2 separate regions of the Homo sapiens genome follow, and region 1 is reported to be linked to region 2. Evidence: microRNA targets listed by miRTarBase, many of them from high-throughput screens and not tested one by one. Region 2 holds a microRNA gene; the other region holds the end of a gene's coding sequence.

Evidence for each region. Region 2 holds the annotated microRNA hsa-miR-3622a-5p (CAGGCACGGGAGCUCAGGUGAG, at 2,035-2,056, opposite strand). A microRNA usually pairs through its seed, bases 2 to 8, with sites in the 3' UTR of a target mRNA and lowers its output. Matches are read on the target gene's strand: a 7mer-m8 pairs with bases 2 to 8, a 7mer-A1 pairs with bases 2 to 7 and ends in A, and an 8mer does both.
Region 1: the mRNA of FCHSD2 is a reported target of hsa-miR-3622a-5p. Seed matches in the 3' UTR shown: 7mer-m8 at 862-868.

The regions. Positions count from the first base shown.
Region 1 is chr11:72,834,482-72,839,481 of GRCh38, reverse strand. FCHSD2 (FCH and double SH3 domains 2) reads left to right here. Exons shown (of 20, transcript NM_014824.3): 20 at 608-2,737. The coding sequence ends at 691. It also overlaps a transcript of ATG16L2 not described here. Among named protein-coding and RNA genes, the nearest start is that of ATG16L2, 23 kb to the right of the region's middle.
Region 2 is chr8:27,698,218-27,703,745 of GRCh38, reverse strand. MIR3622A (microRNA 3622a) reads right to left here and starts at 2,069; the gene lies at 1,987-2,069. MIR3622B (microRNA 3622b) reads left to right here and starts at 1,979; the gene lies at 1,979-2,073. It overlaps LOC124901920 (a long non-coding RNA gene), which reads right to left and starts at 2,776. Exons shown (of 2, transcript XR_007060869.1): 1 at 1-2,776. It also overlaps a transcript of SCARA3 not described here. RefSeq lists a silencer at 467-612.

The DNA of each region.
Region 1 (5,000 bases), not on the chromosome of region 2:
ATTCAGAGGATTACAAAAGTCTCCTAAGTTGCCTTCTTACTTGGACTCTTGCTTGCCTCTGATCCTTTCTCCAGTTGTTACCTGAGTCATCTTTTCGCAGATCTGATATTGCTTAAAATCCACCAAAAACTCCTCTTTTGCCTACAGAATAAAGCACAGATTTATTTTTTTCTTCTTAAAGCAGATGTTTAAACATGGTTTAACAAGGCCCTTCACAACTTAACCCTAGCCTACCTTTCTAGCCTTCTCTTTTGTAACTCTCTACCCAAGACACACTGAAATGTTTCATTTCTCTAAGCATTGCTCTCCCTTGCTTCCAGCCAGACCTTTGCTTTGGAGGATGTGCTAGGATCTTAGTCATAGGACTTGTGCCCATGAGGTTTTTAGCCTAGGCAAGAAGCTGATTTGTGGGCTTGATATTTCATTGAGAACAACTGCTTCTCAGTGTAGGAAATAGTGAAGACTAGGTTGAAAGCACGTGCTCACAACATTTCTGAGACCCCTAGGGTGCCCATGTCCTTGGACAGATGAGTGATTAGGTTTTGGGGATGCTTCAGATACTGAGTCAGGAACTGACTGACAAACTACGTAATTGTTTCCTGCTCAGGTCCGGGCAGCTCCCCCTCCACCTACACAGAATCACCGAAGGCCAGCAGAGAAGATTGAAGATGTGGAAATCACACTGGTGTGATGATGGGCTTGCCCATCCATTACTGCTACAATCAAGGCCAGGCTTGGAGTTTGGCCAGTCTTGTTTTTTAGGCACCTTTGCATGATGATGACTCTTGAACAGAGCAAAAAACAAGGAGGATTATGTGTGACTGGGTGGCCTGGTAGACTCCTCCCACGTTTTGAATATTTCGTGCCTTTTTTTTTTGTTGTCATTTTCTATGTCATTTCTCCTACCATAGCACAAATCCTAGCGGACCCTAGGAGCAAAGAGGGGGGCAGCCCTCATGCCTAACAGTGGTCTGTTTTTATATGAGACTCAAGAACAGGCCTCATTCCAGGGCACAGTCCCTAAATTACTGATCATGTGCACTCGTACAGTATATTACTGTGACCACAAGGATGTGGCAAAGATTCTCATCTTTCTTCAAGTGGCTTTTGCTCATCTGATTGAGAATTAATCAGATCATGTTGGCTACATAAGGAAACAGAAGGAGGGATTTCAGGAGAGGCTGGCTCCTCCCCAAGGTTAGTCCCCAGACTGAGAAAGTGAAACCTTATTGGGAAAAATTGGACTGCCCTGAATTTAGCACCAATTGCATTAACGCACATCTCTTCCACAACTAACAGACTTAAAATAACAGTGTCCTTCGTATTAATATCTGTGCCATTCATTTAGAATTAGCAGAGCTAATATGGAGGGGCTGAACTAGTAGCCACATCTTGTTCATCACATAGACTAATAGAAAGGAGGCTGTGGCTAAAGCAGAAATGGAACTTCCGGATCTGAAATTAGCCAATATAATGTTCTTTTGTATTTGGGTATTTTTCATCTTAATTTTTACAGCATATACTCTTCTTACCAGTATCCTTAGAATCCAAATGTCTAGATAAGTTGAGGACACATACCTGCATTGTTGAGCTTCTCTACTGGGGACGCCCCGGCATTATTTTATTCCCAAGCCAGCAGACCGGCCCAGACAGCCAGGCTGTGGCTGGTCCAGACCAACTGCTATGGTGGAAAATGCAGCTTCCAGGTCCCACTACCCTGACATTTCCGTGGAAGGAAGAACCTGGTGGCTCGTGGAGGAAACCAGCTTTCTATGAGAAAGGACTGAAGGATTGCGCACCCTGCACAAGTACAGATTGACCAGGAAAAGACAAGTGTCTTCTGTGTGTCACAGGGAAAGCCAGGAGTGGCCTTCTCTGCAGGCCAGCAAGCCTGCAGCAGCAGGTGCCCCCACGTCAGGTGCTGACTGTCTGCTGTCCGCTCCTGTAGAAGGTAGGGAGCACAATACCTAGGGACTAAGGGATGTTCGCCGGTTGTGGTTTGTTTTTTTTTTTTTTCCTTGGTTAAGAAATCAAATTTGCAGAATTTAATCTACAAGTTGTATTATGCTTTGAAAACTCCATCCCTCCTAAGAATCTTAAAAAACTTGAAATGCTCGCCAAATGTCCCCATGGGATTTTTGACCAAAAGTAAGGTGATAACTGAAGAAATTTTTAGTTCTTTGATCACTTCAGTGACAATACCCATTAATGAATCTTCTCCATGATTTGGGGTTTTTTTTCGTTGTTGTTTTTTACACTTCTTAACCTGTTGATCTATTTGAGGTCTTTTGTGTTTATCAAACTTATTCTTAAGTTTAAAAAAGAAATTAAAAGGGTGGTTTTTTTAAGATTTTAAAGTTTGCTAACATATTAAAAATCTTCAAATGCTTATTAAATAGAGCAGTTCTTGCCACCCAGTCTTGTATTCTGTCTTTAGCTAGCCAAATTGTCCTTGAATTTGGGTTTTCCACAACCTCAAAGGGTTATTTGAAATCTTTTGTTGTATTTTAAAATATTTTTTGGAAGAGCTGCTAATTTTATTTTAAAAAACAAAGTTGTGAAAACATGCCTCCTTTTTAAAAAATAACCCCTCCATCCAGGATATGGAATCCAGCACCACAGTGCACAGGTCAGGGCTCGGAGGGAGCCTCTGTGCAGATGTGCTTTCTTTACAGTGGCTGTAAAAAGTTTGTATTTATTATGTATAAAATGTTGAATAATAAAAAAAATGGAATTATGTTTTCTAAGTTTTAATATAGAAAGGTTTGGGTAAACAGACCTTTCCAAAAGGCCCATGCTTCTTATAAAAACATTCCTGGGCCCTCCTTTAAACCAGCTAACAGACAGAGAGAGGAGAAAGTAAATTAATCCATCTATGAGACAGACAGTCCCTGAAGCCCCCATGTGCTAGGTGTAATATCCTGGGTACTAGAGATGGCAGTAAATAGGTTACGGTCTTTGCTTTTCCCATGGGAAAAAAAAGAAATACGTGAGGACAGTACTGTGGGACATGTGCTAGAAGGGAGGGGCAGATAGCATAGAGGCAGCTGAGGAGGGAGCTCTGATTCTGCTGCTGGAGGGGTGAGAGGAAGGTCACTGAAGTCCCCTTGCCGGATGTGACCACTGGCTTCCAGGAAGCGGGCATTCTGGATGCCTCTCCCCTTTCCTAAACCTCCACCCTAAGGAGTAATGAATTGTGTGAAAGGAGATTTTCTCGGTCCCAGGGGTGGATGGAGCATTCTTAGTCAAAGGCTGAGTCCCCCTGGCTTCCAGCCAGCCACACTGAGGACCAGGACACAGCCTGTTTGGGGAAGGGCCCCACAAGCTCTCCTCTTTCCTGGAGCTGGGGACATGCAGTAAGCATTTTTCCAGACATTATCCTGTGCATAAGACTCTTAAGTGTACACACTGCTTGTTTACATAAAAATGTGTTCAGCCGGGCGCAGTGGCTCATGCCTGTAATCCCAGCACTTTGGGAGGCCGAGGCGGGCAGATCACTTGAGGTCAGGAGTTTGAGACCAGCCTGACCAACATGGAGAAACCCAGTCTCTACCGAAAATACAAAATTGGCTGGGCATGGTAGCTCATGCCTGTAATCCCAGTTACTCTGGAGGCTGAGGCAGGAGAATCGCTTGAACCTGCGAGGCAGAGGTTGCGGTGAGCTGAGATTGTGCCATTACACTCCAGTCTGGGGAACAAGAGTGAAACTCTGTCTCAAAAAAAAAAAAAAAAAATATGTTCCAGTATAAATGTTGGGTAGATTCCTAAGTGTGGAATTTGAGGGTCAAAAAGGTATGTATTTAATTTTGTTAGATTTTGCCAAATTGGCTTCCTATAAGGACTATATCCATTTACACTCCCACCAACCGCATATGGACTTAGGAGCCAGGAGGTCTGGGTTAAATCCTGGCTCTGCCACTTGACAGCCATGGGGACTGAGCCTGTGTCCTCATCTGGAACCTGAGAATAAGACTGTGGTTCCAGGAAGGCCATATAAAGTGTGCCACAGGCTGGTCACCACGAACTCTTCTCACCACCACCTCTCCTCACCACCACCTCTCCTCACCACCACCTCTCCTGCCTTTTCTCACCACCACCTCTCCTGCCTCTTCTCAGTGTCCTTCCCTCCAGAACTAGGGTCCTTGATAGTCTTCCAGGCCCATAGTAACGCACAGAGTTGTCATAAGGCCCAAGGGAAAGAATGTGTGTGAAGTGCTCTACCAAAAATGTGGGAAGGGCTGTCAGGACACGAAATGTCATTTCCGTCTTCTGACTTCCCTGCCAGTGAAAGCTGCTTTCGGTACTGGAGGTTCCGTCTGTGACCAAGGGCAAAGCTCAGCTAACTGCCTCACCCCAGCGTCATAGCTAAATTTTGGTCTCCTTCATCACAGGAACTGACTTGATGCATGATGCAATCAACCCACAGGTTCTCAGTACACCACCTAGATCCCCTTCCTCTCTGACCCACCACCCCAGCCACATTCACAAGCCAGAGACCCAGTGGGAGGGCATCATCTGGCCTTAGCCCTGCCACTGCTTGATGGAAGACCTTTCCCTCTTAGCTGCCACATCCTCAATTGTAAAGGAATGGAATGATGGCTGGGCACGGTGGCTTACGCCTGTAATCCCAGCACTTTGGGAGGCCAAGGCTGGTGGATCACCTGAGATCAGGAGTTTGAGACCAGCCTGACCAACATAATGGAAACCCCGTCTCTTACTAAAAATACAAAAATTAGCCAGGTGTGGTGGTGGGTACCTGTAATCCCAGCTACTCGGGAGACTGAGGCAGGAGAATTGCTTGAACCCAGGAGGCAGAGGTTGCGGTGAGCCAAGATCATGCCACTGCACTCCAGACTGGGTGACAGAGCAAGACTCTGTCTCCAAAAAAAAAAAAAAGGAATGGAATGAGGTTATCTCCCAGGGCTTATCTAACTCTCATGCCCTGGATGAGTTGTTTCTAGATACAGAGAACATCACACAAAAAAGGTCACAATATTTGA
Region 2 (5,528 bases):
CCAGATTTCTGTCCAAGAATGAACCCTCCAGAACCTCCTAGGAGATTCTTTCCAGGTCCGGAGTCCTGGGTTTGTAGTTCAAGCCCCATCTTGAAGGTGCTGTGCAACCTTGAACAGATCCCCCCCAACCCTAGTCTCAGTTTATCCAGACTGCACCTGCATCCTGGGAACAGGCATGGCTGTGCGTTTGATAACCACACCCATTGCCGGTTGGGAGACCAGGTTTTTCTCTCAAGGGAGCCGCAGTCTGTTGCCTTTTGCCACCATTTTGCAAATCAGATCTCAATTCTGGGCCCACCCAGCCACCCCATCCTGTCCCCTCCAGCCTCACCCTGACTTCTCAGCTTTCACTTTTTTCTGCTGATGGGTTGGAAATTGCTACTCTCCTGTTTTCTCTCCACCTGCACTAACAAACCCCAAGTGCTGCCCCCAGCACGAATCCCTGGTTCCCGGGTCCTCTGCCAGGTGCAGGTGCTGCGGCTTCATGTTCAAAGGATTCTGGGCACTGCGCTTTCTCCCTTGATGTGCCCAGCCAGGCTGCGGGGATGGGAGGCTCCTCTCCTGTGCGGCTCAGGCTGTTTTTCTCCCCAGAGCCTTGTGGCCAAGTTTCCGTGGCCCTGTGCTCTGGACCCTGGGCCAGGGCTGTGGTGTGGGCAGCCTTGAGGCCCTGGGTTCCATGCCAGTTCTCGACAGGAAGGCCTTTCATGTGGGTGCCAGCTGGCCTCTGGGCCCAGCTTCGGGCCTGGCAGGGCCTGAGGAGGGAGAGCTGCGAGTGTGAAAAACACTTTCTGTTTGGGAGCTGGTTGGTGGGAAGGAAAGACAAGAGGGAGGGGGACAGGCAGGTCAAAGAGCTTACCCAGGTTTAGAGGAGCGAGGCCAAGGTGCCCCTGTAGAAATGAGGCGATTCGGCCTTTCCTCCCCAAAAAGAGGTCTTGGCAGAGATACAAGGAAGCAAAGTCTGTTGGGTGGGGATGGAAAACACTTTCCCAAGCCTGCCTTCACTCCCTCCCTCCCCCGGGCTCACTGAGCCTAATCAGGTCAAGCACGCAGCTCCCTGCCAGACACTGTGGCATTGTTTAAAGCCGCTGCCTCCCCAGTACCCTCTCCCCACAGAACTGAGTTCTGACAAAGGAGGCCCTGAGGGACAGGGCTGAGAGGACAGAGACCCAAGGTCCAGGGACGCGTCACTCCCCTATGGCTCGCTCTCCTTCCCACTGGTTATTGTTTTTCTACCCTGGACCCCAGGGAGAAAAGGAGCCAGGCCCTGGCAAACCTGAAGGCTGTTTGTGTTGACATAAAGGCACTTTCTGAGCAAACAGCACTGAAAGGTCAGCAGTAACCCCAGGCAGTGCCAGGACTGGGCAGCGGGTTTGGGAGGTGTGGAGAGAAAGGAAACTGTGGGCCACTTGGGGTCGGATGACTTCACCAGAAGAAGAAGAAAAGCCAGCCAGGCTGCAGGGAGGGGGCTTCCTGGAGATGGAGCCCTGGAAGACCTTGGCTACCCCATAAAACTTAAATAGGACTTGAAGTCAGTTGTTTATCTGCTTTCCAGAACACCAATGACATGGGAGAGAGGCTGGCGCCCTAGGCAGGACCCAAGCGAGCCTGGTGTCTGGGGCAGGATCTGCCACTACGCTTGGCTTTCTCACTGTAGGACTCAGTTTGCATGGGAAACCAAAGGAGAATTTCAAGTGTCCTACTCACACATATTCTAGCCTTTCAGGAAACATTTACTGAGCATACATCACCCACCTGATAGGGGGCTAAGCCTGGGAATGCTTTCAGAGATGAGTAGCACAAGGTCTCAGATAAGGTGACCCATTTTCCCCGTTTGCCTGGGCCTCCCAGTTTTAGCACTGAACATCCCTTAGCTCAGGAAGCCCAGGAAACCCTTTGGTTTGGGGCATACTTGGTTGGTTGGTCACCCTAGCATCAGTCATCAAGCAGCTCACGATCTGCAAACAATGGTAGACATACGAGTGATATAATAGAGGGTGCACAGGCATGGGAGGTCAGGTGAGCTCAGCTCCCTGCCTCACCTGAGCTCCCGTGCCTGTGCACCCTCTATTGGCTATGATCACACCACTGCACTCCAGCCTGGGTGACAAAACAAGACCTTGCCACTAAAAAAAAGAGAAAGAAAGAAAAGAAAGAAAGAGAGAAAGAGAAAGAAAGAGAGGAAGGAAGGAAGGAAAGAAAAAGCTACTTTTTGAATGAAAGAATGAAAAAGCATCTCTCAGCTAGGAAATGTCTTGCCATGATGACACCTGTGTTCAATGGGGAGCTACGAGAACATTTTAAAAAAATCTACTGTACTGAGGCATAATTTACATATAATACAATGCATACACTTCAATGTAGACTTTGATGAATTTTAACAAATATATACACTCAGTAACTGTTAAATCAATCAAAATATTTATAGCACCCCAGAAACTTCCCTATTTCTCTTTTGTAGTTAATCCCATCCTAACCATCCCATCCCAGGTAACCACTTACCTGATTTCTGTAACTATAGATTCATTTTAGTTTTTCTAGAACATCATCTCAATGGAATAATACAGTCTGTACTCTTTTGAGTGACTTCCTCTACTCAATGTGCTTTTGAGATTTATCCAAGTTGGTTTGCATATCACTAGTTTTTTTGTTTTTTTTTTACTGGTGAGTATGGATTTATCATAATTTTTCCATGCATTTGCCTATTGATGAACATTTGACTTGTTTCCAGTTTTTTGCTATTCTGGACAATGCTGTTGTGAATAGTATGTACAAATTTTGGTATAGAAAAACATTTTCATTTCTCTTGGGTAAAAACCCAGAAGTGAAATTGCTGGATCATAGGTTAAGTATGTGTTCAGATTTATAGGAAATCACCTAACTTTTCCAAAAGGGTTGTACCACTTCACAGTTTCACCATTAATGCATGAGAGTTCTCGTTGCTCCACATCCTCACAACATTTTGTATTGTTGGTTTTTGAAATTTTAGCCATTCTAGTGGTATCTCAGAGTGGTTTCATTTGCATTTCCCTGATGATTAATGAAGCTGGAACACTTTTTCATGTGCTTACATGGTCATTCATATACTTTTCTTGCAAAATGTCTGTTCATGTCTTTCATCTTTTTTTTTTTTTTTATTTTTGAGGTAGAGTTTTGCTCTGTTGCTTAGGCTGGAGTGCAGTGGTGTGATCTCAGCTCACTGCAACTTCCACCTCCTGGGTTCAAGTGATTTTCCTGCCTCACCCTTCCAAGTAGCTGGGACTACAGGAGCCCACCACCATGCCCAGCTAATTTTTGTATTTTTAGTAGAGACAGGGTTTCACCATGTTGGCCAGGCTGTTCTTGAACTCCTGGCCTCCAGTGATTTGCCCATCTCGGCCTCCCAAAGTGCTGGGACTTTCATCCATTTTTAATTTGAGCTGCATGTCTTTTTCTTATTGAGATGTATGAGTTCTTTATGTATCCTGAAAGCAAGTCCTTTGTCTCATATATGTATTGCAAATATTTTCTCTTATTCTGGGATTTTTTTTCTTTTCATGTTCTTAAAGGGATATTTTAAAGAATAGAGGGTTTTAATTTTGATATAATCCAATTTATCAAAATTTTTCTCTTATGGTTTGTGACTTTCATGACCATATTTCTTAAAGTCACAAAAATTATCTTATGTATTTTTTAAGAAGTTTTATAGATTTAGTTTTTACATTTAGGTTTGTGGTCCATATCAGATGAATTTTTGTGTATTATATGAGGTAATATCAAAGTTTGTTTTTTGCATATAAAAATCATTTGTTGAAAAGACTTTGAAATCATTGGTGTCTTTGGGGAAAATCAATTGATATATATGTGTAAATCTATTTCTGGATCTCAATGTGGTTCAATTGATCTATATGTCTGTCCTTACACCATTATCTCATTGTCTTAATTACTGCTGCTTTAGAGTAAGTCTTTTTTTTTCTTTCTGAAATTTTAAATTTTTATTTTTTGTAGAGTTGGGGTCTCACTATATTGTCTAGGCTGGTCTGGAACTTTTGGGATCAAGTGATCCTCCTGCCTGAGCCTCCCAAAGTGCTGGGATTGCAGGTGTGAGCCTCCATGACAGACCTAGAGAACGTCTGGATATTATGTAGTATAGGCCCTCCAACTGAACTCTTCTTCAAAATTCTGTGGATTTTCTAGATCCTTTGCACTTTTATATACATTTTTAGAATCAGTTTTGTCAGTGTCTTTAAAAACAAGGCTGCCGAGGCCTGGCACAGTGGCTTACGCCTGTAATCCCAACAACTCATGAAGCTGAGGTGGGAGGGTCACTTGAGCCCAGGAGGTCAAGGCTGCAGTGGACTATGATCATGCCACTGCACTCCAGCCTGGGTGACAGAGCAAGACTCTGTCATTTACAAAAAAGAAAGAAAGAAAAATAAGGCTGCTGGGATTTTGATTGGAAGTGTGTAGGATATGTAAAAGAATATAGGAAAATGAACGTCTTTTTTTTTTTTTAATTTTTATTTGAGACGGAGTCTTGCTCTGTCACCCAGGCTGGAGTGCAGTGGCGCAATCTCGGCTCACTGCAAGCTCCGCCTCCTGGGTTCCCACTATTCTTCTGCCTCAGCCTCCCAAGTAGCTGGGACTACAGGCGCCCGCCACCATGCCCGGCTAATTTTTTGTATTTTTAGTAGAGACAGGGTTTCACCATGTTAGCCAGGATGGTCTCGATCTCCTGACCTCATGATCCACCTGCCTCGGCCTCCCAGAGTGCTGAGATTACAGGCGTGAGCCACTGTGCCCAGCCATGAACGTCTTATTAATGTGAGTTTTCTTATACATGAACATGAGATATATATATAGATAGACAGATAGATAGATACCACTATATATATATATCTCCATTTATAAAGATATTTAAAAATTTCAGCAATATTCTGTACTTTTTACTATAAAGATCATGCCCATCCTTTACTAAATTCATTCCTATATATTTTATATTTTTATGCTGTTGCTAAATGATTACTTAATTTTAATTTTCTTATTTTTTGCTCCTAGTATATAGAGATGCAATGGGTTTTTGTATATTGGCCTTCTATATTATGATATTGGTAAATCACTTTTTAATAATTGCCATTTTCTTGTAAATTCCCTAGGATTTTCTATACAAACAACTATGCTGTCTGTGAATAAATACAGCTTTATATTTTTCCTTCCAATATGTATTTCTTTGTTTGTCTTATTTCGTTGGGGAGGACCTCTAGTCAAATAGAATAAAAGTGTTGGGAGATGAGATCCTTGCCTTATTTCTGGTTTATAAGGGAAAACATTTAGACTTCCACCATTAAATTTGCAATTAGCTATCCCTGGTGCTCTTGTTGTCATATCAACTTGACACATTATAAATCCAATCTCCAGTCTTATCTTAAAATAGTCTTAAAATAATCTTCCCTTACAATAGTCAGTTGTCTCTCAAGAGAATTCAGAGAGAAAAAAATCCATGCATTTTAATATTTACGTTCTAATTTACCACTTCTGCTGCTCTCCACTCC